Linked DNA regions of Homo sapiens: region 2 is linked to region 1. Evidence: fine-mapped expression QTL. A gene starts in region 1. The other region holds a variant in brackets. All regions are shown on one strand. Distances are between the middles of the regions. Region 1 holds the start of SLC20A1-DT (SLC20A1 divergent transcript). Region 2 overlaps LOC124907869 (a long non-coding RNA gene).

Evidence for each region. PIP is the estimated chance that this variant, and not a neighbour inherited with it, causes the effect.
Region 2: its variant is fine-mapped to the expression of SLC20A1-DT in whole blood (TOPMed, PIP above 0.99).

The regions. Positions count from the first base shown.
Region 1 is chr2:112,636,852-112,653,095 of GRCh38, reverse strand. SLC20A1-DT (SLC20A1 divergent transcript) reads left to right here and starts at 8,916. Exons shown (of 5, transcript NR_033871.1): 1 at 8,916-8,997; 2 at 9,081-9,137; 3 at 9,803-9,917; 4 at 10,907-11,013; 5 at 11,114-11,266. It overlaps SLC20A1 (solute carrier family 20 member 1), which reads right to left and starts at 7,157. Exons shown (of 11, transcript NM_005415.5): 1 at 6,967-7,157; 2 at 5,934-6,533; 3 at 5,632-5,772; 4 at 5,358-5,443; 5 at 298-394. The coding sequence starts at 6,267. LOC107985934 (a long non-coding RNA gene) reads right to left here. Exons shown (of 2, transcript XR_001739642.2): 1 at 15,526-16,244; 2 at 13,250-14,136. RefSeq lists silencers at 5,910-6,204, 6,666-7,495 and enhancers at 10,135-11,334, 11,930-12,224, 11,464-12,663.
Region 2 is chr2:112,607,919-112,624,162 of GRCh38, reverse strand. It overlaps LOC124907869 (a long non-coding RNA gene), which reads right to left. Exons shown (of 2, transcript XR_007087193.1): 2 at 8,739-9,950. It also overlaps the pseudogene RPS20P11. Among named protein-coding and RNA genes, the nearest start is that of SLC20A1-DT, 28 kb to the left of the region's middle. The variant T/G (reference allele first, on the strand shown) is at 8,255.

The sequences.
Region 1 (16,244 bases):
CAGCATTTTTAGCATAGACAGGAGAAAGGGAAGGAGATGATCATATTATCAGTGGATCCTGTGAAGACTAAAGAGGAAAGGTCTGTAGTGATTTAGAATCTGAGCAGGTCTCTTTGGTTGAAAAACTATCTAGGTTAACTCAGCGTACACTAGCCTGCAGCCTTCTGAAATGGGCGCAGGCCAGCCACCTTCTAGGAGATTTCAGCCCTGTAAAGCAAAAAGGGGTAAATTGGGCATTTAATGCAAGTTTTGTAAACAACTTTAAATTCACATTTAAATATTTTGATAGGTACTTACACGGTGCTCCAGTATACATGATGGAAAAGAGGTTTATTCCAACTGTGCAGGCATAGAAAACTGGCAAAGCTCGCAAACCATTAGGAACTGGATCTGCCTGTAAAACATCATTAAGATCAATATCTTAAAAGGTATAAAGGTTAACCCATTTCCACAGAATCTTTTAACAGGGTAGGTTTGGGAATTATAGTGCCAATAACTCTCTCCAGAGTAGTTTCCAAGGACAACAGAGTTTTTCCTGCATTTGCATCTGGAATTCTTCCTACGAAGGCTAATTCCAACTTCTACCTGTTTTTTTTTCTTTTTTCTTTTAATAACAAGACTAACTGTACCAGTGACTGATAACATCCTGAATAAAGATTGCAATACCCACATTCTAAGGTACCCAAAAGCCCTAATATAAACTTCAGCACACACCTGAGGATAGGCTATACTCTACGTTTGTAAGAGATGTCAAGAAATAGACTATGTTAGGATGTTGCTTACCTGACTTCATATCTTCAAAGACTAAAAATACAACATGCAGACTATGCGTACGCCAACCATCTTATCTAAACATCTGACAAAGATGCCACAATTAATGCTTTACCGAAGTTCAATGATAATAACTGATTGTGCACAAGGTCATCCACTCACTCAAAAGACTGTGTGCCAAGTGCTATTCTGGGCACCGAAATATAGGAGGGAATAAGACCAAGTTCCTGTTCTAATAGAACTGACACTCACCTTCTAGTATGGAATAATGTAAAGTACTGACAAATGCTGTGAAGAGAAATAAAGAAGGGTAAGAGGAGAGTGATGGAAGGGGGGGCACCATTTGGGTGGGGAGGGTCAAGGAATAAGCATGACATAAATGTAGTAAGCTAGCAAGCTGTGTACATTAACTATGGGTACAGAAGGGGCAAACCACCTGATTATTTGGGCGCTGAATGTTCCAGACAGAGATATCAGCAAATGCAAAGGCCCTAAGGCAAAAACTTGAAATGTTTAAGGAACAGTAAGGCCAGTGACTAAAAATAAGAATTCTACCATACCTAGTATGTATTAATTCTATAGGAGAACACCCAAGTCAAACACCGAAAGAATGGGAGGAGGCTGGGCGCGGTGGCTCACACCTGTAATCCCAGCACTTTGGGAGGCCGAGGCAGGACAATCATGAGGTCAGGAGATCGAGACCATCCTGGGTAATACGGTGAAACCCTGTCTCTACTAAAAATACCAAAAAAATTAGCCCGGATGTGGTGGCAAGCATCTGTAGTCCCAGCTACTCTGGAGGCTGACTCAGGAGAATCACTTGAACCTGGGAGACAGAGGTTGCAGTCAGTGGAGACTGGGCCACCTCACTCCAGCCTGGGCAACAGAGTAAGACTCCATCTCAGAAAAAAAAAAAAATTGGGAGCAAAGATCTGAATACATATATGGGAAGGCTAAAAACTTTATAAAGACCTTAGCCTAAAAGGTTTAATGTTATCTTGATCACAATTCCAGTGGAAAATCTTGGGGAGGAAAAACAGAAAGTAAAACCCTACAGCTTCCAACAATAATCAATACACTGGAAAGTTAGTAGCTTAAGACCAGTGAAACAAGGGAAAGCTCAGACCCATGTGTAAAGTAAAGGTACCATTTCAAATTAGCAGAGATGAGCACTCATTGAAAACCACTCTAAAATTTAACTCTTATCTATAGTTTAATAGAGAATGTTAACAGATAGTGAAATAGCCAAAACAAAAACAATAGCATACAGAAATCAAGAACTGTTAAGCATCCTTGAATAACTAACTCAACGGTGGTCAAACTCTGAGGGCAGTCAACAAGATTAGGAAACTAAGGTGTGTATTTTTATTCTAAAGACTAGTCTTAAGAAAATGCAGGTCAGGTGTGGTGGTGGCTCATGTCTGTCTGTAATCCTAGCACTTTGGGAGGATGAGGCAGGGGATGGCTTGAGCCCAGAAGTTCAAGACCAACTTAAGCAACAGAGCAAGACTCCACCTCTATAAAATATAAAAAGTTAGCCAGATGTGGTGGCACACACCCATAGTCCCAGCTACTCTGGAGGCTGAGGCAGGAGGATCACTTGAGCCTGGGAGGTCAAGGCTGCAGTGAGCTACAATTAAGTCACCGTACTCCAGCCTGGGTGACAGGCGAGACTTCGCTTAAGAAAAAAAAAAAGCCAGGTGCAGTGGCTCAAGCCTGTAATCCCAGCACTTTGGGAGGCCAAGACGGACAGAGCACCTGAGGTCAGGAGTTCAAGACCAGCTTGACCAACGTGGTGAAACCCCGTCTCTACCAAAAATACAAAAATACTAGCCGGGTGTGGTGGCGCCTGTAATCCCAGCTACTCAGGAGGCTGAGGCAGGAGAATTGCTTGAGCCCGAGAGGCGGAGGTTGCAGTAAGCCCAGATCGTGCCACTGCATTCCAGCCTGGGCAACAGAGTGAGACTCCGTCTCAAAAAAAAAAAAAAAAGGCTCCAAAAAACCCAACCCAAGACTCCCACCCCCAAAAATTTCCTGGGTTTTAAAGACATTATGTGGGGACTTCTCAATAGATTTTCAAAGATATTTCGTAATATGATTATCCATAAATCAAATTGTAATTGACTAGTCTGAAGTAGCAGCCTGTGTATTTATTATCCTGTATAGCATAGCCCAATTAAGTATTCCCTGAGGTAAACAAATCTGAGGTATTCTCTACGCAAAGTTGTTGGGGATGGGGTAGGGTATGAATGACACTACTATACCAATAGTTTATTGTGAAATACAGGTTCATGGTTAAAAAAAAATCAAAAGTTCCAGAGAGTCTAGGAAGAAGGTAAAACAAGAAAGGTCTCATCATTGTAGAGATCCACCTAACACACAAGTAAAACTTCACCTGGAAATAATGTGAATGCCTCATCGTCTAGTCATGTGGGACAGGAAAGGTCTTCACAAAACCCCCCATCTTCACCAGAATAGTTCACTTTTACATATTGGATATTCTGGTTTTGTCTAAAGAAAAGGGAAGACATCCTAAATATATTTCTAACTAATGAGAATGCCAAAAGCCCTATTTTCTTTGACTAGAATTTAAAAATACTCAACAGGAGCACTGAAGCATATTCCTTCTGTGCGATGCCAGTCCTAAATAGAAGTACCTCACCTCCATTCTGTCTGTTCCCACCTATCCCCAACATGCTTGGAACAAACATTCAGAGAATAGAAAATGTTTAAAAGCAATTTTTTGAAATTAAAAAAAAAGGTCATGTTAATCTTAATTTTCAAGATAGACATTTAAGAGTTGGAATATATCTTAATGGTCAAATATTCAGATTTTAGCAGTTAAGATACCAAAAGCTTACCAGTCTAAGGATATTTTCTTGAAATTTAACTCCTAAAAGGAAGCAGAAATATTCATACTCAACTGAAAACTCCTGTTACTGAGGGATTGGCCTGCAAGAGTGTGTGTGTGCACGTGCACAGAGTGGGGGAAGATCCTCAAAGTCAATATTGTTTTAAACACTATGCCAATCATTCTTCATCATTTGATCATGCCCATTCCCATACCCATATAGGAAATATACAATTAAGAAATCAGTTACCGTATCTAACTTCAGCCCTCAATAACACCGTGGGGGTATGCATTCCTCAAATGAGAGGTTCTGGGCACCTGAGAATCCCTCTTTGCACCTCAGAGCACCACCATTCCCCTTCCGGGGAATAAGTGTTTTGTGGAGGTGAAACACACAAACCCTCTCCAAAAACAAAATGATCTGCTACTCAATAATCAACACAGGGCCAGCATAAACCTTTACCAAGCAGGAATTCACAACAGGAGATCCTACTAATGCTTCTGACTCTCTGCTAAGTAGCAAGATATACAGTTCTAATGAAAACTCTAAAAAAAACAAAAAAATCTGGTCCATGACTACTGGTGAGCCTCTAATTTAAGCATCCCAGTATCATACACTACAGTTGTAGGGAGTGGGAAGGTAGATGCTTATCGTACCTGTCTGCTGAATAAAACAGTACCAAACTTAGGAGTCCATAAATATCAATGAACTGTTTACTCTCATATTATACCAGGCTAAAGATATTTCAAGTTTTCAAAGTGTTAAACTGCTATATTCTGCCAGATTCTGGCTATGGAAAACAGTGATTAGTGAATCACTTTACTAGTCATAGAATTTCTACAGAGAAGAGACAAATCTTTCCCTAGAGAAGCTTACAACTAGACCAGACAAGTGGGTCTGAATACATTCTTACCTGCTGGGATTTATGCTATCTCCCTCAGATTTCTACAGTTTAGGAACACTTTTAAGAACTTACAATGGATTGTTAAGAGCCATTCACCTTAGAAAAAGGACAACTTTGTTTCCTGAGAAAAATGCATTTATCCTCACTGTAACTCAGTCCTATGCCAACATAATCCCTTGTCAACATTTATTTTGCAGCCAGCAAGACTTCTTGATAAAAGAAATGCAAACTGGGTCACTTAAAAGGGATTTTCAAATGGACAGGAAATTAAATGGCTGCCTGAAGTTTTTTTGGGGGGCGGGCCAAAAACTACCTTTAACTGGTTCTTTTCAACTATTCTGAGAAATTGGAGTCAAGTCACTATGGGAGGCAGAGTCCTCATCTAGAAGCTTATAAACTGGTTATGATAATCAGCACGGCAGAGACCCATTTAACTGGCAGCTTAGTTAAAAAAGCCACAGGGGACACTGTCTTGAACTCCAAGTTTACGTATTATATTAGCCTGAATATAACAGTGGTTTAAACAAATAATGTGTATACAGCTACACAAAACCACGCAAAATAAATTTCCTTATTTTTTTGCTCCCAGTTTCTCCTACTTCTTGGCACATCATAGTATTCAATTTTTCCTTCCTGACTGCCCTCTTGAGTATTAAAAACTCGCTTTCAGAGAACTCCACAACATACAAGAAATGCACAGAACAAAGAGCTTTTTAAAATTTTCCAAGGCCGCATACCTATACACCAATCACATCTGCAAAAGTACCACTGGGTTTGAAATCGATTGGGTGTGCTCCATGAAAGGTCTTCATACGGGGGAGAAAGGTTACCTTATGGAGGATGAATGCACGAACCAGGAAGAATAAAATTCCAGACATAATTCCAGAAAGCAGTGGGGACACGAACCAAGACATCACTGGAATAGAACACATTAAGAAAAAATATCAAATAATGAAAATCAGAAACCAAAAACCACTTTAAATGTTTAAGAGTTCAAAATTCTTGGGTCTGTCCCTCGACGTTAGAACACATCCTCCCATACCTAATGCCATGGTAACATATGACGAAAACGAAAATTAAGAAGCCGTTTGGAATTAAACATACCAATTTTTATCAGTTCAGACCACTTGACACCCTCCTGCCCCTTTGCCACGAGGGAGAAACCAATAGTTGCACCAACAATACAATGGGTTCCAGAAATAGGGAGCTTCAAAAACGAAGCCACGAGTTGCCACACAGCAGAACCTGAAACATAGTAAAGTTTTATTAAGTAAATATCAAAATTCCATTATGTAAGTGGCACATTCAGAAAGGTTAATCGGAAAGGTTATGCACAAAAATGGAACCACCCATGATACAAATTTGCTCACCCACCACGAAGAGGACAAAACATAAAAAGAACTTACCAAACATAGCACTGACTGAGCCGGCCATCAGCAGCCCTTGAGTCGAGTTGTACATCTCCACGTCAATCAAGCCCTTCCGGATGGTTTCGCTCACTTTGGCCCCCAGTAAGACAGAGCCCACTGTTTCAAAGATGCTAGCTAGGATGCAGGCTTGCTTCAGGGTCACTACACCTGAGCCCACAGCTGTACCAAAAGAATTTGCTACATCATTGGCTCCCACGGAGAATGCCAAGACAAATGCAATAATGAAGCCCAGGATGAGCATCCATAGGTAGTCCACCAAAGGACCAGAAGCGGCGGTAGCAGCTGTAGTACTGGTAATCAGCGTTGCCATTCTCTGGAGTAGTGGTTGTTTAGTAAGAGAACTACTGAGCGCCTTTCAAGATGTGTAAACAGAATATGAGGTATCAAAAATGCTATAATAAATAATATATATTATATAAAATTAAATACTGTAAACTACGGCACAGAAACCGAGCTGGGGAGTTACTGCTATACGCTGCGTATGGGCATCTGTTGTCTGGGGTTTCTTTGGCTCAGGAGGGCTAAAAGCACGGAGCAGAATTCCATGGCGGAGAAGAGAAAGGACGCAAGTTCATCCTGCGGGGGAGGGGGGAAATAACAATAGCTGCGTGCCCCTGGGGGGCCAGTGGGGCACCCCGCTCTACCCACGCGCCCGGGGTCCCGCAATAGCCTCTGCCGGCTACTCCAGACCCCCATCCCCAGTAGGACGCGCGAGAAGGAGAGGCACGTGGCTCCGGGTCCTCCGCGGCCCGCGCGCGCCCAGCCCAGCCCCTGCGCTGCCAGCCCGCGCGCGCCCTCCGCGCGAAAATCGGAAAAGGGCCGTTCCCGCGCGCGCCGCCCGGGGACCGCCAAAAAGGCCCGCGGGCGGGCAGACGGGCGGAGTGGAGGCGGCCAGCGGCGAAGAGAGAAGCCAGCCGCGCCGCCCACGGCGTCCGCCTCCAGCGCCACGGCGTCCGCGCCCGGCCCCGGGGAGAAGAAAGAGCCTTTACGAGGCGGCGCCACTACTCACCAGGGAAAAGGGAGGGCGGAGCGGGAGACGAGGAGATCGAGGCGACAGCGGCTGGAGCCACGGGCACACGGCCCGGGTCGGCGGCACCGGGGACAGCTCAGCGGGACTCACGACCTTCCCAGGAAGCAGCCGCGGGGGTTTCAGCGGCCGAGAAGAAGAACCACGCAGAGAGCGCCGGCAGCCATCACTCCAGCGGAGCACCCCGCCGGCCCCTACTTATAGCCCGCGCAGCGACCCGCGTGACCCCGCCGCGCCTCGCGCCGGCCCCGAAGCCCCGCCCCCGGCATGACGCAGCCCTCCTCGGCCCGGCGTGCCCAGCCGGGTGAGCCCGACGGTGGCGCTCATTGGCCCGGCCCGCTTCGGCGGCCACGCCCCCAGCGGGGAGCCGGTCCACGTGGGGCGGGACAGCCCCCTCCCTGCGGCCTCGCCCTGGAGTCTCGGCACCGTCTGGCCCCGCCGGCTGATTACAGCCAGAGATCGAGGGGGACCTCGCTGTCCCCCTAGAGGCCGTCATGCGGGGTTACAGAGGCTGCGACCAAAGTCATTCCTAGCTCCTCTCTCGGGGCTCCGGAAAGCCGTCCGCGCCTCCAGCCGCACTTTCAGCGCACGCAGGACCTGCCGCGCCCGGTGGCCACACCCGTCCCTCTGCCGGGTGACGCTGCGGGAGATCTTGCGCCCTGGGGCTCCGGATCCAGTTCTGGCACGTTGTTGCACCTGTGACTTGTCCTTGGCCTGGCACTGTCCCTCGCCTGGGGGAAGCGGGGGGGTGGGGGGGGGATGCTCACGTGGTCGCTTTGCTCCCGCAGTCATGCACTTGGGTGAAAACAGACTGAAGAGTCACGGGAACCAGCTTGTCTCCCCAGTTATGGCGCAGAGCTGCAAGGATGGCTGTGGGTCATTAATTTCTCCGTGGCTGACCTGTGTTTGTAACGCCGCAGCTGTTGCGAGGGGGAAGGACACTGCTTCGGATTCAAATTCTGACTCCTTGCTGCAGTGTGTCACCTTGAGCCAGTCCCAGATCTCTGCGTTCTCACAATTGTAAAATGTTAACAGAGGCTGCCTACCTTGTGGCTGGAATTAAATGAATTAACGTGTGTGAATGTGACTAGAATTCAGTACATGTTCAGGAAAAGCTGATTTCCGCTTTGCTGTTACCGTGAATATTACTGTTTTAGGGTGTAGAAAAGGGTGGAAGGGGATGTTATTGCATCCTGGAAGCTTATCCTTTTGAGGTAAAGATTGATTTCTGGTCCCCTGCGTGGTATATAGTGTAGTTTTGACATTATTTAGATGTGTTATGCACATTTGGGTGTTGATTATATGGCTTACGATCAAGACTAACCAGTCATGCCGTGGGAGATTAAGGTCGTGGTCTCTTGTCAGGATTGTAGTGAGATTTAAAAATTCCAGCCAGAAATACCAGGCTTAGAATGCTCTGAAGCCCTCCCCACATTTTTGCCATCTCTAGCAGGAGGGCACTGCATAGCAGAAACAAAGACGTTGTAAATTGTTGCTGCCTGAGTCATTTATAGAGGCTTAAACAACCTGAATGTCCTCTGACCTACCTGTAACATTTGATGGAGTTGTATGAGTAACTTACAAAGCTGTAGGTCCCAAGGTCGGTCTGAAAAAGAAAGTTCATATCCGGGAGCACTGACCCCGTAGTGTAATCCTGGCACCTTAAAACGTACTGCTCCCTCCACCTTCACTTCAAGGTTATGAAAACATTGAGTAAAAGGGATGATCTGTTCAAAGTCCTTAGTGTTCTGCCAATTTAAAACAGTAATTTTCAAAGCAGTTATTTGCAAGGAAATTGCCTAGAACTTCTCCCAGTGTGCGGTTGTTTTGTGTGTTTGTGTGTGTGTTTTGTTTGTTTGTTTTCAGTCTGTCCACAGGCGTACTTTTATAGGTCTGTGATAGTAGGTAGCTCTTCAAGTTGGCAAACACCTGCTGGACAACCCCTGAGAGATTCATCTGAGTGAGAGAGCACTCTCCAGCCCCATCGGAGTGGGTTTGCAGGGAAATCATAAGGTAGAGATTCAAAGGAATTCCCTTGCGTTGCAAATGAAAACTGTATCTTCAGACTCTGATATAGTGTAATCCTTCCTTTTTAGGAAGAAATCCTTATCTTTCCAACACTGAGATGCTTCTGCCGAAGAGTAGAATGGGAGGTGAGGAATTGGGGTGGGCCCTCACTGCTTTGCCTCCGGATCAGTAGGGTACAGCCCTTGGAGACCAGGATCTTCCTTGGCTGGGACACCTTCGTCCTCCCCTAAGGGAGGAGAGGTAGGGATCTGCCTGTGGAAAGAAGTTACAGTGCCTTTTAAATAGAAATAGGAGGTAGGAGGACCGTCAGTTGTCAGTTCGTGCACAAATGGCATTGTTTCTGGCCTTATCTCTGAATGCTGAGGAAACAGGTCAGAGATCCTAAAGAGAATCTAATCTCTTAGAATCCAGGCATTGGCACAAACCCCCTCTAGCATCTTAGGGAGGTGGTTTGGTGTAGTGGTTAAACACATAGACTGTAAGACCAAACCACCTGCTCTGTCACTCACTAGTCCTGTGACCATAGGCAAATAAATTATCTGCCTCAGTTTCCTGATCTGTAAAGGGGTGAGATTGAGACTTCTAACTCACAGTGCTGTTGTGAGGACCAAATGAATGAATATATGTAAAGCCCTTGTAAAAGGGCTCTTATTCTCTTTGTTCAATAACTAGCTGAAGGCCTGTCATACATAGCCCATGTTTAAAATGAAGTATGTGTCAGATGTCAGGACCACCCTCTTCTCCCTGCCCTCTGATCCAAGCCCTTTCAAATTTCTCCCACGGCTCATAGTGAGGGGACACGCAAAACGGGCTGCTGCCGGAGGAAGAGGAACAGTGTTGTGGCTCATGCCATATGAATGGGCTCACTGGCCTGGCCCAGACCCTGACTGCCCACAGGATCTTTGGTGAGTCACTGTCACTGAGCCTGTGAGCCTAGGGTCCCTCTCCAACCTCACCCTCAGAGAGGACAGAACAAGATGACCTGTGGCATGCTGCAGAACACCATGTTGGGGACTGTGGGTTTAGAGTCCTCTTGGGGACATGTCCATCGTTCACTAATTCGGTGGAGTTGAGCTGCTGAGAGCTAGGAAAGCTACTCTCCCCCCGGATCCCAACCTAGCCCTGTGGAAGACCAGACAAAAGAAGGAAGCAATGACATTTCTGCACTTTTTAGTTCAGAGAGGCACAGTCAAGGAAATGCATTTGAGGTCACTGTTCGATGTACTTGAAGTACTCATCCTGGAAATAGTCTACTTGGAGTAGAGGGAGCTCAAGTGGGCATGGGAACGTTGTGGAACCAGACCAGGAACAAAGGCGGCTTCAGAGGCCGTCTGTGAGGACTTGCATGGGAGCAGGGGCGAGAACATCCAGGGAAGAGAAGGTAGGAGCCTTGGAGTAAAGGAGAACCAGCTCCTCTCCACCCACCAATGCCCTCCCCATCCCCAGATGAATGAGGTAATAATAATACCTGTAGCTGGACATGGTGGCTCAAGCTTGTAATCCCAGCATTTTGGGAGGCCAAGGCGGGTGGATCACCTGAGGACGGGAGTTCGAGACCAGCCTATCAACATGGAGAAACCCTGTCTCTACTAAAAATACAAAAATTAGTTGGGCACGGTGGTGCATGGCTGTAATCCCAGCTACTTGGGAGGCTGAGGCAGGAGAATCACTTGAACCCGGGAGGCGGAGATTGCGGTGAGCCAAGATCGTGCCATTGCACTCCAGCCTGGGCAACAAGAGCAAAACTCCATCTCAAAATAATAATAATAATAATATCTGTGATGCAGTTGAATGCTTACTGTGTGCCAGGTACTATTTCAGGTGCTCTGCATGGATTATCTCAGGTGATGCTCTCAATAAATCTCAGATGAGGTATTTTCCCCTTACTTTATAGACAGAGAAACGGAGGCACAGAGAAGGAAGCGGCAGTTAAAGCTGCGAAGAACCTAACAAATTTCAAGATTGTAAGTGCCTTTTCCCAGGATGCCAGCAAGTACTGAGGCAAGTATGATTGCCCTAGGTGCCAACTCTTATTTGCACTTAACACATTTACTTCCTCCTTCTTTCCCCCTCCTTTTTATTAACTCTGTTGCTTTTACAGCCTGTATTTTGAGCTGCATCAAACCCTGTTGGAATAAAAAAGGACATTTCTAGGAGATCAGTCTTCGAGATTGGCCCCAGTTTCCCCAGAGTAGGAAGAGGCAGGAAGCCAGAGCACATGTTCTCTCCAGAAATAAAGTTGTTGCAGTGGCCTAACCGTGTCTTAGAGTTACTGAAAACTCTGTTCTCTTGAGATTTCTCAAGAAAGGAAACCTATCTTGCAAGACAAAACCCACCTGTAGTCAATTCCTACAGGAAATAAATTCAAAATAATGTTTCAGGCAAGGGCCACATGTCACCACCACCACTTTCCCACCAGCTTTGAATGTGGCTGTCCTCTGTGTCTCCAGTCATTTCCCATTTCCCCCGGCATCTGTGGCTCTGTCCTGGCAGAGTCCAAGGGATGCTTGGGATCCAGGTGGGGGAAGGGTGCTTGAAAGCACCCAGACAGCCAAGCCCTGATATGGAGACTGGTTGAGACTGGTTGTGACTGGTCTCAGGCCAGCATCCCATGGCAAGAAAGCTGAGTTTTGGTTGTGCCAGACAAACTGGTGGGTCTATTTCTCCGCCAACACAGGAGTATGGGAGGTTGGCCCACCCTCTCTAGATTTTACATGCCTCTGTCCTGGCTGCACATGGCCTGGTCTCTTCCCTTTGGCTTTGAGTTCACACATGTGGGTGTGATATGGCATAGGAGCCAGGCAGAGGGAACAGAAGCACAGTTCTTAGAGCTTGAAATGGTCCAGGTGTCTCTGGAGCCAGCTTCTGGATAGCACAGCATCCTGAATACTTCTTTAGGAAGACGTCTCTGGTGACTTAAACTGGGACTTCTCGCTTTCCCCAAGGCCCAGTTTTCTCAGCTCTTAAACAGGGAAGAAAGGCAACTTGCTGGAAACTCAGGAACTTTGTGTAATGAAGATCCTACAGCAGAAAAGGAAGGGTCAGCTCGCTGCCCGCACAGTCCAGGATGTGTGGTTTTAGGCTGAGAAAGTGAGGGGGCAGCAGGACGTGAGTCATCCCCAAAGTCATCCCAGGAGGAGGTGGAGGGTAACAGCATCTGGCTTTGTATGGCTTCCCTAGCCTTTCATTCATTCGTCTGTTCAGTCAACAAATAGCCTGCTATGGATCTAGTGGATCAACAAGATTGACCAGCCCATGCTTTTATGGGCCACAAACCCCTTCTTGCATTGAGTTTCACACTGAGGACTGGCCATGAATACAACAGCCAAAGAGGCAAAGTCAATCTCTCCCTTCCCCCAACAGACCTGCCACTTCTGGACATGAACCACACACCTCATCTTCCAGTACATCCTTATTTATCATTCGCTCTCTCTACAGACCAGAGCACAGGAGACTGTGCCAGGCCACTCACTGCACAGTCCACTCCACCACTGCCGAGGCTCTTGCTCCCCAGCATTCCTCTTCCAGGGTCAGTGCCCCTCACTTGTCTGATCCCTTCAGCAAGAGAAAGCTTCCCAACAAGACCCCCCACCTCAGAGCTTGCTGGGCACAAAAAGCTGAGTTTTCAGGGAGGGAGTAGGGCCTGGGGCTGTACCTCTGCTTTCCTGGTCCAGAAATTCAGGTGTTTGGGGCACTCAAAGAGAGGCTTCTGCTATTGGGAACTGCCTCATGGGAGACTGAGGTTCTGAGCAGAACCCAGTTTCTTCATTTTCCGTGGGGAAGTCTATCTCCAATGATGGGACCCTCTAGCCCTCTGCCTAGAGCCTTCACTCCACCCCAGACCTGCTGAATGAGAATCTGCATTCTAACAAGATCCCCATATGATTCATAAGCATGCTGCAGTTTGGGAAGCAATCACAAGAATGACTCTTGCTACCTGGTAAGTTTAGAAACAATATGTTAACACATTCCGTTTCAGTCAGATGTTCAAAAAACACCACTTTTTTCTATTTTAAGTCCTGTTTTTCTGAGCAAGCATTCCTACTGTTCTAGGTAAGGGATAGTTTAGCACATGGGACCTGGGGCCAGACTATTAGAAATTAGAATCTTGTCGACCATTTACATGCTATGAGGTTGGGCAAATTGCTTAACTTCTCTGTGCCTCCCATTCCTCTGTAAAGTGGAAATAATAGGGTTGTTATGAGACTTAAATAAGTAAAATGCATAGCACTATCCCTGGCATTTAACAAGCATTTATTTGAATATTAATTGGGTTTGGGTATCCCCCAGTTTTGTTATTTTGTTTTTATTTGTTTATTAATTTTTTGAGACGGAGTATTGCTCCATCATCCAGGCTGGAGTGCAATGGCACAATCTCAGCTCAATGCAACCCTTGCCTCCTGGGTTCAAGCAATTCTGCCACCTCAGCCTCCTGAGTAGCTGGGACTACAGGCTCCTGCCACCATGCCCAGCTAATTTTTGTAATTTTAGTAGAGACAGGGTTTCACCATGTTGTCCAGGCTGGTCTCAAACTCCTGACCTCAAGTGATCCACCCGCCTCGGCCTCCCAAGGTTTTCAGATTACAGGCGTGAGCCACCCTGCCCAACCCAAGTTGGTTGGGTTTTTTGTTTTGTTTTGTTTTGTTTTTTTGTCACAAGGCCTCACTCTGTTGCCCAGGTTGGAGTACAGTGGTGCAATCTCAGCTCGCTGGAGCCTTGACCTCCCAGGTTCAGGTGATCCTCCTTCCTCTGCCTCCCCAGTACCTGGTACTACAGTTGCATCCCACCACGAATGGCTAATTTTTGTATTTTTTGTAGAGACTGGGTTTCACCATGTTGCCCAGGCTGGTCTCGAACTCCAGGGCTCAAGCAATCCACCCACCTAGGCCTCCCAAAGTGCTGAGATTACAGCCATAACCCACTGCACCCGGCCTAATTTTGTATACACCACCTTTACCATCTTTTAGGATGAAGTGCTTCTGTGGCTGGTCTCATCCATTTAGCATAGATTCTTGCCAGTTTTATTTTCCAAAAGTGATTTTCTTCCTGGGGGCAACTTACTGTTGCCCCAAAATATATCCATTTTAGGACTGTTCATTTATTCAACCATTCAGCACCTACCACCTGCAGGGAATATGAAATTTTTAACTGTGACCTTGAATACTGCCTCTACCTTTTATTTTGTTTTTTCACTCCTCCCTCTCCACCCATTTACCTCTCCCTTTTTAATGATGGTTATAAAATCAAATGTTAACGCTGATTTATAAAAACCATATATGTGTATATATATATATATATACACACACACACACACACACACACACACATATATATAGATATATATAGGACTCACTCTCCTGTTTCCAGATACCTTCAAAGGCATTGTTTCATTTTATCTTCACATCTGTGTGATGTAGGCAGAGCAAGTATTTTTTTTACCCTATCACAGGGAAATGAGGGTCTGAGAGCCTGCAGTCGGGCAAGTAGCAAGTTTTAGAGTAGGGCCTGGAGTCCTGCACGGTGGGCCCTGGCAGGCAATGCGTGAGAGACTCCAAGTCTACTATACTTCCCACCACCCTGTGTTAACTCCCCATTTAAGCCAGAGGAGTGACTTACAGGTATGGGGATAGGGATGGGACATTCAGGCCAGAGAAGGGAGAGAAAGGGACAAGGGAGAGAGTACTTCATGCAGTGACTTCAATTGCAAATACCCTATTCCATTGTCCCCACTAGAATTCATATTTATCAGACTTGTATTCTGATTATTTCATAATATATGGGCACCGAAACAACCAGACTAATAGGGGAAATAGTTTAGGGCAAGAGGAGCTCAAGATTTTTAAAAATTATTATAAAAATAATACATGCTCGCTGGGTGCAGTGGCTCATGCCTGTAATCCCAGCACTTTGGGAGGCCGAGGCGAGTGGATCACCTGAGGTCAGTAGTTCAAGACCAGTCTGGCCAACATGGAGAAACCCCGTCTCTACTAAAAATACGAAAAATTAGCCAGACATAGTGGAGCATGCCTGTAATCTCAGCTACTCAGGGAGTCTGAGGCAGGAGAATTGCTTGAACTCGGGAGGCAGAGGTTGCATTGAGCCAAGACCACACCATTGCACTCTAGCCTGGGTAACGAGAGCGAAACTCGGTATCAAAAAAAAAAAAAAATTAGCCGAGCATGCCTGTAATCCCAACTACCCAGGAAGCTGAGGCATGAAAATCTCTTGAACCTGGGAAATGGAAGTTGCAGTGAGCTGAGATCACATCATTGCACTCCAGCCTGGGAGACAAAATGAGACTCCTCTGTCTAAAAAAAAAAAAAAAAAAAAAAAAGCTCATGTAAAAACTATACCATAGAGAAGAATATCAAGTGAAAAATGCTCCTCCTTAGAATCTCAACTTTCTAGTCTAACCCCCCGACATAACTACTTTTAATCATTACTTGTAATACACACACACACACACACACACACACACACATAGGTATTTTCACTATAATATATAGTGTATACCTTTTTTCTTTTAATCAGATGAAATCATACCATGGGGTTTCGCAACTTGTTCTTGATACCTTTGCACGTCACTGCATATAGATCTTCTTGCACGCCTTCTTTTATTATCTGCAGTGGAATAGACCATTATAAAGCACGTCCTTATGCAAGTGGACTCTCTGGGTCATGGGCTATGCAAATATTTTCATTTTATATGATATTGCCAAATGTCCACCCAGCACATAAGAGAAAATGCCAATTTCAAGGCTGGGGATGTTTTTTGATCCCCTTCTGATTACATATGGCTGGTGGTGTCATGGCCCATCCATATCTCCTTTGCCAACATTAATCCCGGCTTTGGCATCTCTTTAACTCTCAGTAGAATGAAATCTTTGGACGCTGATCCTCAGCAGTGAGGCATTTTCTTTGCCTTCTCTTTCCAACTCTGTAGTGGTCATTGATTAACAAGCCTGTCTCTCCCTTTCACTGGCCCTTTCCATTTAGACCCTGGCCTCTTTCCTCACTCCATCCTCCTCCCAACCTGCACTTTCTGGAACAGCCCCACAGGGCCCAGCTGGTGGGTGCCTCCTTCCCCAGGGGTGTGGGGTGTATGGTTGGTTTTGTGGCAAGGTCATCCTCATGGTCACCACCTTGCTTGTTGATGTTCCCTGCCATTGGCATGGTGGTTGTTATGGGATCAGCATGGGTAACCAAACCCTGAAGAGACACAGCTTTGCTGC
Region 2 (16,244 bases), 29 kb after region 1:
CTACAGGCGCACCCTACTGCGCCCAGCTGAGCAATCTGTGTTTTAAAAAGCCTTCCGGATAGCTCTGATGCATGATAAAGCTTTTATGAACCTCTGCTCTGCGGAAATGCCTTACCATCTCACATGCCTACCAGCTATGGTCATAAGCACACATTTTATATAATCGTACCAAGTTTTGAAAAATCTTTTCCAAGTTAAATCCTAGACAGGTGTACAAATTATATGTTAAGAAGTAACAGATAAATCTTACAGCCCAATTATTTGAAAATAAGAATCAAGTCATTTGAGTCTGGGCCTTCGAAATTTGACATGTAAGAATATTCATAGAAAATTGACTTAGTCCTAAATTCTTATCCCTAAATCCTGTTTTGTTTTGTTTTTTAATTTTTTTTTAAATTTTTTTTGGTTTTTTTTTTTTGAGTCAGAGTCTCGCTCTGTCGCCCAGGCTGGAGTGCAATGGCACAATCTCAGCTCACTGCAACCTCTGCCTCCCGGGTTCAAGCAATTCTCCTCGCACCTCAGCCTTTTGAGTAGCTGGGATTACAGGCGCCCGCCATCATGCCCGGCTAATTTTTGCATTTTTAGTAGAGATAGAGTTTCACCATATTGGCCAGGCTGGTCTCGAACTCCTGACCTCATGATCTGCCCACCTAGGCCTCCCCAAGTGCTGGGATTACAGGTGTGAACCACTGCACCCAGCCCCAAATCCTGTTATCTAAAAGATGACAAAATTTGAGCCTAGGCAACATATCAAGACCCCATCTCTACAAATTTTTTTTAAGAAATAGCCAGGTGGCTGGGCGTGGTGCCTCACCCTGTAATCCCAGTACTTTGGGAGGCAAAGGTGGGTGGATTACGAGGTCAGGAGTTCAAGACCAGCCTGACCAATATACTAAAAATACAAAAATTAGCTGAGCATGGTGGCACACGCCTGTAGTCCCAGCTGCTTGGGAGGTTGAGGCAGGAGAATCACTTGGACCTGGGAAGTGGAGGTTGCAGTGAGCCGAGATCAAGCCACCGCACTCCAGCCTGGGTGACAGAGCGAGACTCCGTCTCAAAAAAAAAAAAAAAAAAAAGAAAAGAAAAGAGAAAAGAAATAGTAAGGCATGGTGGTGCATGCTTATAGTCCCAGCTACTCAGAAAGCTGAGGCAGGAAAATCACTTGAGCCCAGAGGTTCAAGCCTTCAGTGAGCTATGACTGCCACTGCATTCCATCCTGGGCAGCAAAGAGAGTCTCTGTCTCTACTGAAAAAAAAAAAAAAAAAAAAGAAAAGAAAAGAAAAAAAAAAGAAAAGAAAAAATTTGGAAATAAATTAAAAGTGCATAAAAGTTATTAAAATACTGCTAAATAGTAATAGATAATTTATCTTCCTCTTTACACTCTGCAGAAGAAACGGTGAATGGTACTTATTAGGCAATGTGTAAAGCACTTGACGTGTGTAATCTTATCACATCTGCACAAATGACACACGATCCAAAGAACATTTTTGGCTCCAACTTACAGATGAGTAAGCAAGCTCAGGGAGGATCTTTCCTGATAGATATTTAGCAGCAGAGAGGGCCAGGAATTGGGTTCTGTAATCTCAGTCTGTGCTCATTTTACTGGAAGCCACATGTGTAGATACTGGTATTATCTGAGCCTAATCCCTGGAATCTCTATGGTCAATTGGAGAGAGGCTTAGGGAGGTCAGGGGATAGACAGGTCTTGGCCAGAGTCCACCTCACAGTGGGTCAGGTAGGATCCCAGGCACACCGTGTGGCTATTTTGCCAGCCTTGCTGTCCTTATCCGAGGAATGCGGTCTGTCATGGTGGGAATGCCCAGTTAGAATCCTTGAAAGGGCCACCTACAACCAAGATAATAACCTAAAAACAATTCTGTGGAGGAAGACGCGGTCGTAGGTGCTGAGGATTTCTCGTTCAGACGCTCCTGCTCCTGACTTACCGCTGTTCACTCTCGCCGAGGAACAAGTCGGTCAGGAAGCCGCGCAGCAGCCTTGGCTTTTAAGGATACCGGAAAACACCCGTGGAGCCGGAGGTGGCCATTCACCAAATTCGAATCACCCTAACAAGCCGCAATGTAAAATCCCTGGAAAAGGTGTGTGATGACTTAATCAGAGGCGCAAAGGAAAAGAATCTCAAAGTGAAAGGACCAGTTCGAATGCCTGCCAAGACTTTGAGAATCACTACAAGAAAAACTACTTGTGGTGAAGATTCTAAGACCTGGGATCATTTCCAGATGAGAATTCACAAGCGACTCATTGACTTGCACAGTCCTTCTGAGATTGTTAAGCAGATTACTTCCATCAGTATTGAGCCAGGAGTTGAGGTGGAAGTTACCATTGCAGATGCTTAAGTCAACTATTTTAATAAATTGATTACCAGTTGTTAAAAAAAAAACAATTCTGTGCCTGATGACATTGCAGAAATTAGTTCCATAAAGATTTGAAAGATGCAGGGCTACTGATTTCCATAACACCATTATTACCTCACCTATTTGGTCAGTGCAAGAGGCAAATGTTGGTGGAGAATGAAGGTGGATTAACACAAACATATTCATGGGTTTGCTTATCCCGCCCACAGCACTTCCTCCAGCACCATATATTCATAGATTTACAAATGCTTATTCAATTGCAATGATGTCTTACATACAAATTATTTGTCCATGGGCATGTTTTCATGATAAAAGATGTTAAGCTATGGGCCATGGCTATGGAGTTCCTGCTTACTACATGCCACATCTCCTAGCAGCAGGCAGCTTCACAGAAGGTAGTGGAAAGACCTGCCGCAGCCTTAATTATGGTGGCAGTGTGGGCTCCACATCTACGACTTTACAATGTGTAGTGAACCTTTGGATACCTCTCAGAATTTCCCATCAGGACCTAAGCAGTGATTCCATGAGCTGCTAGAGTATGGACTGCTAATGATTCACAGGTGAAACCTCTTCCAAGAATGTCCTTGGCCCACAGGAACAGTCTTACCCAAGGTCATGCACCCTTCCCAGTGTAGGGACACACAGCCTGTTCTAAGGATATGTAATACTTCTGTCCATAATGGCAAGTGATGTTGCCTTTGGAAAAATGCTACAGTGAGAACAGCATTAGTGGGATGAGAGCACATCCAGGACCCACTGGGCTCCCTGAGCCCAGCCATGTGGTGTGGGTGAAGCAGTACAGGCGGGGAAAAGACCACTGCACTGAGGAAAAGAGCTGGCAGGGTCCAGCGTGCTTAAGAACAGTGTCCAGGCCAGGCACAGTGGCTCATGCCTGTAATCGCAGCACTTTGGGAGGCCGAGGCGGGCAGATCACGAGGTCAAGAGATCAAGATCATCCTGGGCCACATGGTGAAACCTCATCTCTATTAAAAATACAAAAATTAGCTGGGCATTGTGGCGTGTGCCTGTAGTCCCAGCTACTCGGGAGGCTGAGGCAGGAGAATCGCTTGAACCCGGGAGGTGGAGGTTGCAGTGAGCCAAGATCAAGTCCCTGCACTCCAGCCTGGCATCAGAGTGAGACTCCATCTTAAAAAAAAAAAAAAAAAAGCAGTGTCCGGCAGACTGTACAGACTGCACTCTGCTCAGGCCAGTTAGCTCTAATGATCCTTTTCAGCTACAAGTGCCAGTGACTGGCTACTCTGTAGAATGGGGTCATCAGGCATCAAAAGAGTCACATAATGGCATTACAAGATGGCCAGACATCCCTTGATCCCAGAGGAACATTTTGTGCCAGCACCTCCAGCTTCATGGAGGCATTGATACACCAAGTCCCTGAGGATGCCTGAAGCTGGTTCACAGATGGAGCCCGCTAAGTTACAGGCTGGCGGATTGTTCTTGGCCCTTGCAGCTGTGCAGCCACAGGGGAAAACAAAAGCTGTTTAAAATTTTGCACACAAAAAAAAGGTACTACCCAGTGGACAGAGTTGGGGACAGTGGTGGTTTTCCTGAAAAACCCCTCCAAAATGCTCCTTGCTGCTTTTTCATTGATTTAGAGACGGTAGCCAATGGGCTGGCAGTGCGGGCCTGTGCCTGGAAGCAAGACTAAATGATCAAGTCTCAATCCCTATGGCAGTGAACATTATGGTATCAGACTTTTTTTTTTTTTTCTGAGATGGAGTCTCCCTCTGTTGCCCAGGCTGGAGTGCAGTGGTACGATCTCAGCTCACTGCAGCCTCCATTTCCCAGGTTCAAGTGATTCTGTTGCCTCAGCCTCCCAAGTAACTGGGATTATAGGCTTGCACCACCGTGCCTGGCTAATTTTTTTTTTTTTTTGTATTTTTAGTAGAGACGGGGTTTTGCCATGTTGACCAGGCTGGTCTTGAACTCCTGACCTCAGGTGATCCACCATGCCTGGCTATTTTTTTTTTTTTTTATTAGAGATGAGATTTTTGCCATGTTGACCAGGCTGGTTTCGAACTCCTGACCTCAAGTGATCCACCGCCTCAGCCTCCCATGCTGGGATTACAGGCATGAGCCACCGCACCCAGCCTCAGATTTTATTAATACTACACCACTGCCCTCTGTTTTATGGATGTGGATGTCCATAGAAATAGCATGAGTGGAATTCAAAACCCAATCAGACTTGTGCCTTCCAGGTAAGGACAACTGAATACATCATCACAGAGGCCACGACATTCTGTCTACAGTGCAGGACTGGGACCCAAAGCAAAGATGAATGACTCCAGCACAGGAAGCCACCGAAGTCTGGTAAATGAGCCTGTCAGTCAAGGGGCAAAGAAAACTCCAGGGCACATATAAACTCAGGACACCAGATTCTGGCCAGTCCTGGCAAATAGGCTACATAACCTCCTAAATGCTCCACTTGGGGATGCAATTAAGCATTTCCTACAGTAGGCACCTTTCTGGGTATGGCATGGCAATGTAGGTCCTTACCACAGATAGGAGGTAGATGTAACATAAATTTAGGGACTCGCAGATGACCTGTGTTACATACTGAGATTCCCTGAATGTATCTCATCAAATGATGCGCATTTATAGTCAAGAGTACCCAACACTGGCCAACCACCTTGGACATTGCCAGGACATCTCAGGACCCTCATCACCCACAGGCAATAGATGCCATAAAAGGATGGAATGAGGCTGGGCGCCATGGCCCACACCTGTATCCCCAATACTTTGGGAGGCTGAGGCAGGTGGATCGCTTGAGACCAGCCTGGGCAACATGGTGAAACTCTGTCTCTACATAAAATACAAAAAATTATCCGGGTGTGGTGGTACACCCCTGTGGTCTCAGCTACTGGGAAGGCTGAGGTGAGAGGATCACCTGGGCCCAGGAGGTTGAGGCTGCAGGGTAAGCCGTGATTGAACCACTGCATTCCAGCCTGGGCGACAGAATGGGACCCGGTGTCAAAAAAAAAAAAAAAAAAAAAAAAGAGAGAGAGAGAGATGGATGCTTAAAGGAGAAGCTAAAAAGGGTACATAGAGAACCAAAGCTCAATTCTCAGTAGAGTACACACTTAAAACAGACAATATGGATTCTAAATGTGCCAATACCCCAAAAGGGAACTTCCTTTTTAAATAGAATCTGTGTGAGTTTGAGGAGTCGGGGAGGAGGCCCAGACTGTCTGTAAGAGACCCAAACCAACACAATATACTCTCCTTCTTCATTCCTCCTTTCCCTCCCACGCTCACCCCTGGGGAAACCAAACTATGCTGCTTTTTTCTTTTTTTTTTTTTTTTGAGACGGAATCTCACTCTGTCGCCAGGCTGGAGTGCAGTGGCGCAATCTCAGCTCACTGCAACCTCCGCCTCCTGGGTTCAAGCAATTCTCCTGCCTCAGCCTCCTGAGTAGCTGAGACTACAGGCGCCCACCACCACGCCCGGCTAATTTTTGTATTTTTAGTAGAGACGGGGTTTCACCATATCGGCCGGGCTGGTCACAAACTCCTGACCTCAGGTGATCCACCCACCTTGGCCTCCCAAAGTGCTGGTATTACAGGTGTGAGCCACAGCGCCCAGCATTTTTTTTTTTTTTTTTTTGACACGGGGTCTTGCTCTGTCGCCCAGGCTGGAGTGCAGTGGCACAATCTTGGCTCACTGCAACCTCCGCCTTCCTGGTTCTAGAGATTCTCCTGCCTCAGCCTCCGAGTAGCTGGGACTGTAGCTGGGACTATAGGCGTTTGCCACCATACCCGGCTAAATTTTAGGTATTTTTGGTAGAGACGGGGTTTCTCCATGTTAGCCAGGATGGTCTTGATCTCCTGACCTCGTGATCCACCTGCCTCGGCCTCCCAAAATGCTGGGAATACAGGTATAAGCCACCATGCCCAGCCTAACCTGATGCTGCTTTTACTGTCCAGTTATGCTTCCTGGATCTGGGCAATTATAGATACTGATGATATTGATCATGAGTATGAAGTGACGACTCCCAAAGTGGTCCCGGCATGGCACACTATGTGAGGGAGTGGAAGATGTTCTAGATGGCACAAGTTGCAAACACACACACGCACACACACACAAAGCTGCACTGCTTAGGAATAAACTCAGCCATATGGTGTGTATTAGACTGAGTGAGGACTGCAGGGACTAGCTATACCTATCTCATGGCCATGAAAAAACATCAAAAGCCCAGGATGGTGGTGAAGGAACACTCTAGATCTCTCTTGGCTCTTGCCTGCAGAACACCTGGCTTGGCCTGTCATCTCAGAATCTTTTTGTCATGTTGTCCAGGCTATCACCACTGCCCTCAGTCTAACTACTACTCCCATTCTATCGAGAGACCTTAAATCGAGGACCTCCAACTTTAGAAGTGGAGAACTTCTGCCCAAGACATCAGAAAAAAGATAATTTTCTGGACACTTAGGTTTCTTTCCTGCTTTCTCCTATCCTATTATTGCTGGTATCTCTGGTCCCCTTCCACTACCTAAAAAAAATAACAAAACTTCCTTGTGTTGCTCAATCTGTCTTACCCCTCCTGACCCTGCTGACAAACTTTTAATAGCTCCTCCTGCCTGGGCTCGATGGCTCATGCCTGTAATTCTAGCACTTTGGGAGGCTGAGGCAGGTCGATCACTTGAGATCAGGGGTTCGAGACCAGCCTGGCCAACATGGTGAAACCCCGCCTCTACCAAAAATATGAAAAATTAATCAGATATGGTGACATGTGCCTGTAATCCCAGCTACTTAGGAGGCTGAGGCAGGAGAATTGCTTGAACTCAGGAGGCGGAGGTTGCAGTGAGCCTAGTTCGTGCCAAAGCACTCCGCCTGGGGGATAGAGCAAGACTTCATCTCAAAAAAAAAAAAAAATCTCCTCCTTTGAGTACTTTGGAAGTATTCTTCCAGGAACTATTCCTTCTTTCAGGCTCTTTCTGATACTTAAATTTCCTTTATATTGTTAATCCCAGCCTCCAGTCTTGTGAGAATTGGACCTTGACGTCACGTCAGCACTGTGCTGCTGCTGTGGTCACCCAAACCTATTAGCAGAATCTAATTCGCCCTGAGCAGGACGTAGCATTGAGACTAGGTTGGGCTACGATAGCCGGAGACTTATACTCTTACAGTTTTGCCCCAAATGAATAGCACTTCTTATGGTGGATATCAGGCATATAATTGCCTACCACGCACCTAGTTTGGGCTATCAAGTGTGAGCGGTAATGGATGATCACATTGCCCTGGATTTTCTGCCAGCCAGCCAAGTAGGACATCTGAATTAATGACATACCTAACTGGCTTGGCTCTGGATGGGAAGTCTGATTGCAGCCTATCTTTTTCCAAGCAGGCCTAATTGTCCTCCTGGGAGTCATCATCATGGTTACTCTCATTTAATGTTGCCTAAGGAAAAGGATTTGGTCCAACCTTCTACCAGTACATCTAAGGTAAGTGATGGAGAATTTCCAGGCCAGGCATGGTGGTTCACACATGTAATATCAGCACTTTGGGAGGCCCAAGTGGGCAAATCACTTGAGCTCAGGAGTTTGAAACCAGCCTGAGCAACAAGGTGAAACTCCACCTCTACCAAAAATTCAAAAATTACCAGGTGTGGTGGTGCACACCTGTGGTCACAGCTACTTGGTAGGCTGAGGAGGGAGGATCACTTAAACCCAAGAGGCAGAGGTTGCAGTAAGCCAAGATTGTGCCACTGCACTCCAGCCTGGGCAACACAGTGAGACCTCATCTCAAAAAAAAAAAAAAAAGAATTCCCAGGCTCAGCACAGTGGCTCATGCCTGTAATTGCAGCACTTTGGGAGGCCGAGGTGGGTGGATCACTTGAGGCCAGGAGTTCAAGGCCAGCCTGGCCAATA[T/G]AGTGAAACCCTGTCTCTACTAAAAATACAAAAAATAGCCAGGTGTGGTACCACATACCTGTGGTCACAGCTACTCAGGAGGCTGAGGCATGAGAATTGCTTTAACCCGGAGGCAGAGGTTGCAGTGGGCCGAGATTGTGCCACTGCACTCCAGCCTTGGGCAACAGAGTGAGACACCATCTCAAAAAAAAAAAAAAAAAAAACAATATCCAGAAGAATTATCAGCGGGGTATGTGGAAGGTCCAGCATGGTGGTATGGAGTGCCAACTCCACAGTGCCCTGGCAACCCTGCATGTCTTCACTTAGGCCATGTAGACAAGGCTCAACCACAGTCTGACTCCCCTTGTGCAAGAACACCCGAGGCTCCTGAAACACGGTGAGATTGTAACCGCCCAGTGGGTTCACTTTGCCCCCTGCCTAGACAAAGCCCATTTTTCAAGACAGGGGAATTACATGGAGAAAAAGTAATTCATGCAGAGCTGGCTGAGCAGGAGACCAGAGTTTTATTATTACTCAAATCAGTCTCTCTGAAAACTCAGGGATCAGGAGAGAGGTTCAAGATGGCCGAATAGGAACAGCACCAGTCTGCAGGTCCCAGCGAGATCGATGCAGACGGTGGGTGATTTCTGCATTTCCAACTGAGGTACCTGGTTCATCTCACCGGGGCAGGTTGGACAGTGGGTGCAGCCCACAGAGGCTGAGCGGAAGCAGGGTGGGGTGTCACCTCACCTGGGAAGCGCAAGGAATCGGGAAATTTTCCCCCTGACCCAAGGGAAGCTGTGAGGGTCTCAGCCTGAGGAACTTGGGCACATATACTGCACTTGTTCCATGGTCTTCACAACCTGCAAACCAGGAGATTCCCTCTGGTGACTACCCCACCAGGGCCCTGGGTTTCAAGCACAAAACTGGGCGGCCAACTGGGCAGACACTGAACTAGCTGCAGGAGCTTTTATTTTATTTTATTTTTCCATATCCCAGTGGCACCTGGAACGCCAGCGAGACAGAACTGTTCACTCCCCTGGAAAGGGGGCCTGAAGCCAGGGAGCCAAGTGGTCTGGCTCGGCGGTTCCCACCCCCATGGAGCCCAGGAAAGTAAGATCCACTGGTTTGAAATTCTCGCTTCCAGCACAGCAGCAATCTGAGATCCACCTGGGACGGTGGCGCTTGGTAGGGGGAGGGGCGTCCGCCGTTGCTGAGGCTTGAGCAGGCGGTTTTACCACCACAGTGTAAGCAAAGCTGCTGGGAAGTTCAAACTGGGTGGAGCCCATTGCAGCTCAGCAAGGCTGCCGTGTTCAGACTGCGAGATTGCTCCTCCCTGGACAGGGCATCTCTGTAAAAAAGGCAGCAGCCCAGTCAGGCTTGTAGCAGACTTAAACGTCCCTGCCTGATGGCTCTGAAGACAGCAGCGGATCTCCCAACACAGCATGCGAGCCTGCTAAGGGCCAGACTGCCTCCTCAAGTGGATCCCTGACCCCTGTGTATACTGACTGGGAGACACCTCCCAGTTGGGGCTGACAGACACCTCATACAGAAGAGCTCTGGCTGGCATCTGGCAGGTTCCCTGCTGGGTCGAAGCTTCCAGAGGAAAGAACAAGCAGCAATCTTTGCTGCTTTGCAGCCTCCACTGGTGATACCCAGGAAAACAGGGTCAGGAGGGGACCTCCAGCAAACACCAGCAGACTGGCAGCAGAGGGGCCTGTTAGAAGAAAAAGAAACAAACAGAAAGGATTAGCACGTCCACTCAAAGACCCCATCCGAAGGTTACCAACATCAAAGACCAAAGGTAGATAAATCCACAAAGATGGGGAAAAACCAGTGGAAAAAGGCTGAAAAATCCAAAACCAGAACGCCTCTCCTCCTCCAAAAGATCGCAACTCCTCGCCAGCAAGGGAACAAAACTGGACAGAGAATGAGTTTGACGAACTGACAGAAGTAGGCGTCAGAAGGAGGGTAATAACAAACAACTCCGAGCTAGAGGAACATGTTCTAACCCAATGCAAGGAAGCTAAGAACCTTGAAAAAAGGTTAGTCAAATTGCTAACTAGAATAACCAATGTAGAGAAGAACATAAATGACCTGATGGAGCTGAAAAACACAGCATGAGAACTTCGTGAAGAATACACAAGTATCAACAGCCAAATCAATCAAGTGGAAGAAAGGATATCAGCGATTGAAGATCAACTTAATGAAATAGAGAAGACAAGAGTAGAGAAAAAAGAATAAAAAGGAATGAACAAAGCCTCCAAGAAATATGGGACTATGTGAAAAGACCAAATCTACGTTTGATTGATGTACCTGAAAGTGACAGGGAGAATGAAACCAAGTTAGAAAACACTCTGCAGGATATTATCCAGAACTTCCCCAACCTAGCAAGACAGGCCAACATTCAAATTCAGGAAATACAAAGAACACCACAAAGATACTCCTTGAGAAGAGCAACCCCAAGACACATAATTGTCAGATTCACCAAGGTTGAAATGAAGGAAAAATGTTAAGGGCAGCCAGAGAGAAAGGTCGGGTTACCCACAAAGGGAAGCCCATCAGACTAACAGCAGATCTCTCGGCAGAAACCCTACAAGCCAGAAGAGAGTAGGGGCCAATATTCAACGTTCTTAAAGAAAGAATTTTCAACCCAGAATTTCATATCCAGCCAAACTAAGCTCCATAAGTGAAGGAGAAATAAAATCCTTTACAGACAAGCAAATGCTGAGGGATTTTGTTACCACCAGACCTGCCTTACAAGAGCTCCTGAAAGAGGCACTAAACATGGAAAGGAACAATGAGTACCAGCCACTGCAAAAACATATCAAGTGTAAAAAACATCGACACTATGAAGAAACTGCATTAACGGGCAAAACAACTAGCTAGCATCATAATGACAGGATCAAATTCACACATAACAATATTAACCTTGGGTTGGGCATGGTGGCTCATGCCTGTAATCCCAGCACTTTGGGAGTCCAAGGCAGGCGGATCACAAGATCAGGAGTTCGAGACCAGCCTGACCAACATGGTGAAACCCCATCTCTAATAAAATAAAAAAATTAGCCAGGCCTGGTGGCAGGTGCCTGTAATACTCGGGAGGCTGAGGCAGGAGAATTGCTTGAACCCAGGGGGCGGAGGTTGAGTGAGCTGAGATGGTGCCATTGCACTCCAGCCTGGGCAACAGAGTGAGACTCCATCTCAAAAACAAAAACAAAACAAAACAAAAACAATATTAACCTTAAATGTAAATGGGCTAAATGCCCCAATTAGAAACACAGACTGGCAAATTGGGTAAAGAGTCAAGAACCATGAGTGTGCTGTATTCAGGAGACCCATCTCACATGCAAAGACACACACAGGCTCAAAATAAAAGGATGGAGGAATATTTACCAAGCAAAAAAAAGCAGGAGTTGCAATCCTAATCTCTGATGAAACGGACTTTAAACCAACAAAGATCAAAAGAGACAAAGAAGGGCATTATATAATGGTAAAGGGAACAATGCAGCAAGAAGAGCTAACTATCCTAAATATATATGCACTCAATACAGAAGCACCTAGATTCATAAAGCAAGTTCTTAGAGACCTACAAAGAGACTTAGACTCCCATACAATAATAGTGGGAGACTTTAACACCCCATTGTTAATATTAGATCAATGAAACAGAAAATTAACAAGGATATTCAGGACTTGAACTCAGCTCTGGACCAAGCAGACCTAATAGACCTCTACAGAACTCTCCACCCCAAATCAACAGAATATATATTCTTCTCAGCACCTCATCACACTTATTCTAAAACCGACCACATAATTGGAAGTAAAATACTCCTCAGCAAACGCAAAAGACCAGAAATCATAACAAACAGTCTCTCAGACCACAGTGCAATCAAATTAGAACTCAGGATTAAGAAACTCACTCAAAACTGCACAACTACATGGAAACTGAACAACTTGCTGCTGAATGACTACTGGGTAAATAACGAAATGAAGGCAGAAATAAAGATGTTCTTTGAAACCAATGAGAATAGAGACACAATGTACCAGAATATCTGGGACACATTTAAAGCAGTGTTTAGAGGGAAATTTATAGCACTAAATGCCCACAAGAGAAAGCAGGAAAGATCTAAAATTGACACCCTAACATCAAAATTAAAAGGACTAGAGAAGCAACAGCAAACACATTCAAAACTTAGCAGAAGACATGAAATAACTAAGAGAGCAGAGCTGAAGGAGATAGAGACATGAAAATCCCTTCGAAAAATCAATGAATCCAGGAGCTGGTTTTTTGAAAAAATCAACAAAATAGATAGACTGCTAGCCAGACTAATAAAGAAGAAAAGAGAGAAGAATCAAGTAGTCGCAATAAAAAATGATATAGGGGATATCACCACTGATCCTACAGCAGTACAAACTACTATCAGAGAATACTATAAACACCTCTATGCAAATAACCTAGAAAATCTAGAAGAAATGGATAAATTTCTGGGCACATACACCCTCCCAAGTCTAAGCCAGTAAGAAGTCGAATCTCTGAATAGACCAGTAACAAGTTCTGAAATTGAGGCAGTAATTGATAGCCTACCAACCAAAAAAAGTCTAGGACCAGATGAATTCACAGCCGAATTCTACCAGAGGTACAAAGAGGATCTGGTACCATGCCTTCTGAAACTATTCCAAACAATAGAAAAAGAGGGAATCCTCCCTAACTCATTTGATGAGGCCAGCATCATCCTGATACCAAAACCTGGCAGAGACACAACAAAAAAAAATTTCAGGCCAATATCCCTGATGAACATCGATGCAAAAATCCTCATAAAATACTGGCAAACTGAATCCAGCAGCACATCTAAAAGCTTATCCACCATGATCAAGTTGGCTTCATCCCTGGGATGCAACCCTGGTTCAACATACGCAAATCAATAAACGTAATCCATCATATAAACAGAACCAAAGACAAAAGACACATGATTATCTCAATAGATGCAGAAAAGGCCTTTGATAAAATTCAACACCCCTTCATGCTAAAAACTCTAATAAACTAGGTATCGGTGGAACATATCTCAAAATAATAAGAGCTATTTATAACAAGCCCACAGCAAATATCATACTGAATGGGCAAAAACTGAAAGCATTCCTTTGAAAACCGGCACAAGACAAGGATGCCATCTCTCACCACTCCTATTCAACATAATATTGGAAGTTCTGGCCAGGGCAATCAGGCAAGAGAAAGCAATAAATGGTATTCAAATAAGAAGAGAGGAAGTCAAATTGTCTCTCTTTGCAGATGACATGATTGTAAATTTAGAAAACCCCATTGTCTCAGCCCAAAACCTCCTTAAGCTGATAAGCAACTTCAGCAAAGTCTCAGGATACAAAATCAATGTGCAAAAATCACAAGCATTCCTATAAACCAATAACAGACAAACAGAAAGCCAAATAATGAGTGAACTCCCATTCACAATTGCTACTAAGAGAATAAAATACCTAGGAATCCAACCTACAAGGGATGTGAAGGACCTCCTCAAGGAGAACTACAAACCACTGCTCAAGGAAATAAGAGAGGACAAAAACAAATGGGAAAACATTCCATGCTCATGGATGGGAAGAATCAATATCGTGAAAATGGCCATACTTCCCAAAGTAATTTATAGATTCAATGCTATCCCCATCAAGCTACCACAGACTTTCTTCACAGAATTGGAAAAAACTACTTTAAACTTCATATAGAACCAAAAAAGAGCCTGCATAGCCAAGACAATCCTGGGCAAGAAGAACAAAACTGGAAGCATCATGCTACCTGACTTCAAACTATACTACAAGGCTACAGTAACCAAAACAGCATGGTACTGGTACCAAAACAGAGATATAGACCAATGGAACAGAACAGAGGCCTCAGAAATAACACCACACAGCTACAACCATCTGATCTTTGACAAACCTGACACACACAAGCAATAGGAAAAAGATTCCCTATTTAATAAATGGTGTTGGGAGAACTGGCTAGCCATATGCAGAAAACTGAAACTGGACCTCTTCCTTACACCTTTTACAAAAATCAATTCAAGATGGATCAAAGACTTAAATGTAAGACCTAGGACCATAAAAATCCTAGAAGAAAACCTGAGCAATACCATTCAGGACATAGGCATGGGCAAAGACTTCATGCCTAAAACACCAAAAGCAATGGCAACAAAAGGCAAAATTGACAAATGTGATCTAATTAAACCAAAGAGCTTCTGCACAGCAAAAGAAACTACCATCAGAGTGAACAGGCAACCTACAGAATGGGAGAAAAATTTTGCAATCTATCTATCTGACAAAGGGCTAATATCCAGAATCTACAAAAAACTTAAACAAATTTACAAGAAAAAAGCAAACAACCCCATCAAAAAATGGGCAAAGGGTATGAACAGACACTTCTAAAAAGAAGACATTTATGCAGCCAACAGACATGAAAAAATGCTCATCGTCACTGGTCATTAGAGAAATGCAAATCAAAACCACAATGAGATACCATCTCATGCCAGTTAGAATGGCGATCATTAAAAAGTCAGGAAACAGGCCGGGCACGGTGGCTCAAGCCTGTAATCCCAGCACTTTGGGAGGCCGAGGTGGGTGGATCACGAGGTCAGGAGATCCAGACCATCCTGGCTAACACAGTGAAACCCTGTCTCTACTAAAAATACAAAAAAATTAGCCAGGCGTGGTGGCAGGTGCCTGTAGTCCCAGCTACTCGGGAGGCTGAGGCAGGAGAATGGCGTGAACCCAGGAGGCAGAGCTTGCAAAGAGTTGAGATCGTGCCACTGCACTCCAGCCTGGGAAAGATGGCGAGACTCTGTCTCAATAAAAAAATAAATAAATAAATAAAAAGTCAGGAAACAACAGATGCTGGAGAGGTTGTGGAAAAATAATGCTTTTACACTGTTGGTGGGAGTGTAAATTAGTTCAACCATTGTGGAAGACAGTGTGGCGATTCCTCAAAGATCTAGAACTGGAAATATCATTTGACCCAGCAATCCCATTACTGGGCTTATACCCAAAGGATTATAAATCATTCTATGATAAAGACACATGCACACGTATGTTTATTGTGGCACTATTCACAATAGCAAAGACTTGGAACCAACCCAAATGTCCATCAATGATAGACTGGATTAAGAAAATGTGGCACATATACACCATGGAATACTATGCAGCCATAAAAAAGGATGAGTTCATGTCCTTTGCAGGGACATGGATCAAGCTGGAAACCATCATTCTCAGCAAACTATCACAAGGTCAGAAAACCAAACACCACATGTTCTCACTCATAAGTGGAAGTTGAACAATGAGAATATATGGACACAGGGAGGGGAACATCACACACCGGGGCCTGTCAGGGGGTCGGGGGCTAGAGGAGGGATAACATTAGGAGAAATACCTAATGTAGGTGACGGGTTGATGGGTGCAGCAAACCACCAGGGCACGTGTATACCTATGTAACAAAACTGCACGATGTACACATGTTTGCCAGAACTTAAAGTATAATTAAAAAAAAAAAAAAGAAAAGAAAAGAAAACTCAGGGATCAGGGTTTTTAAGAATAATTTGGTGGGTAGGGGTCCAGTGAGCCAGGAGCACCGATTGGTTGGCTTGAGGATGAACTCATAGGCAGTCGAAGCTATCCTCTTATGCTGAGTCAGTTCCTGGGTGAGTGCCACAGAACTGGTTGGCAGGTCCAGGTGAGGCCAACCACTTGTCAGAAATGGAAAAACCTGAAAAGACATCTCAAAAGGCCAATCTCAGGTTCACAATGGTGATGTTATCTTCAAGAGTAATCAGGGAAGTTGCAAATCTCATGACCTTCCACGTAACAGCTGGTAATATTTAGAGTTCCAGCCCCTCTCATCCTAACTTGGTGGCTGGTGGCCTTTCATTCGTTTTACAAGAACAGATTTGCTTTTGGGAAGGGCTGTTATTTAAACTATAAACTAAATTCCTTCCCAAGGCTAGTTCGGCCTATGCCCAGG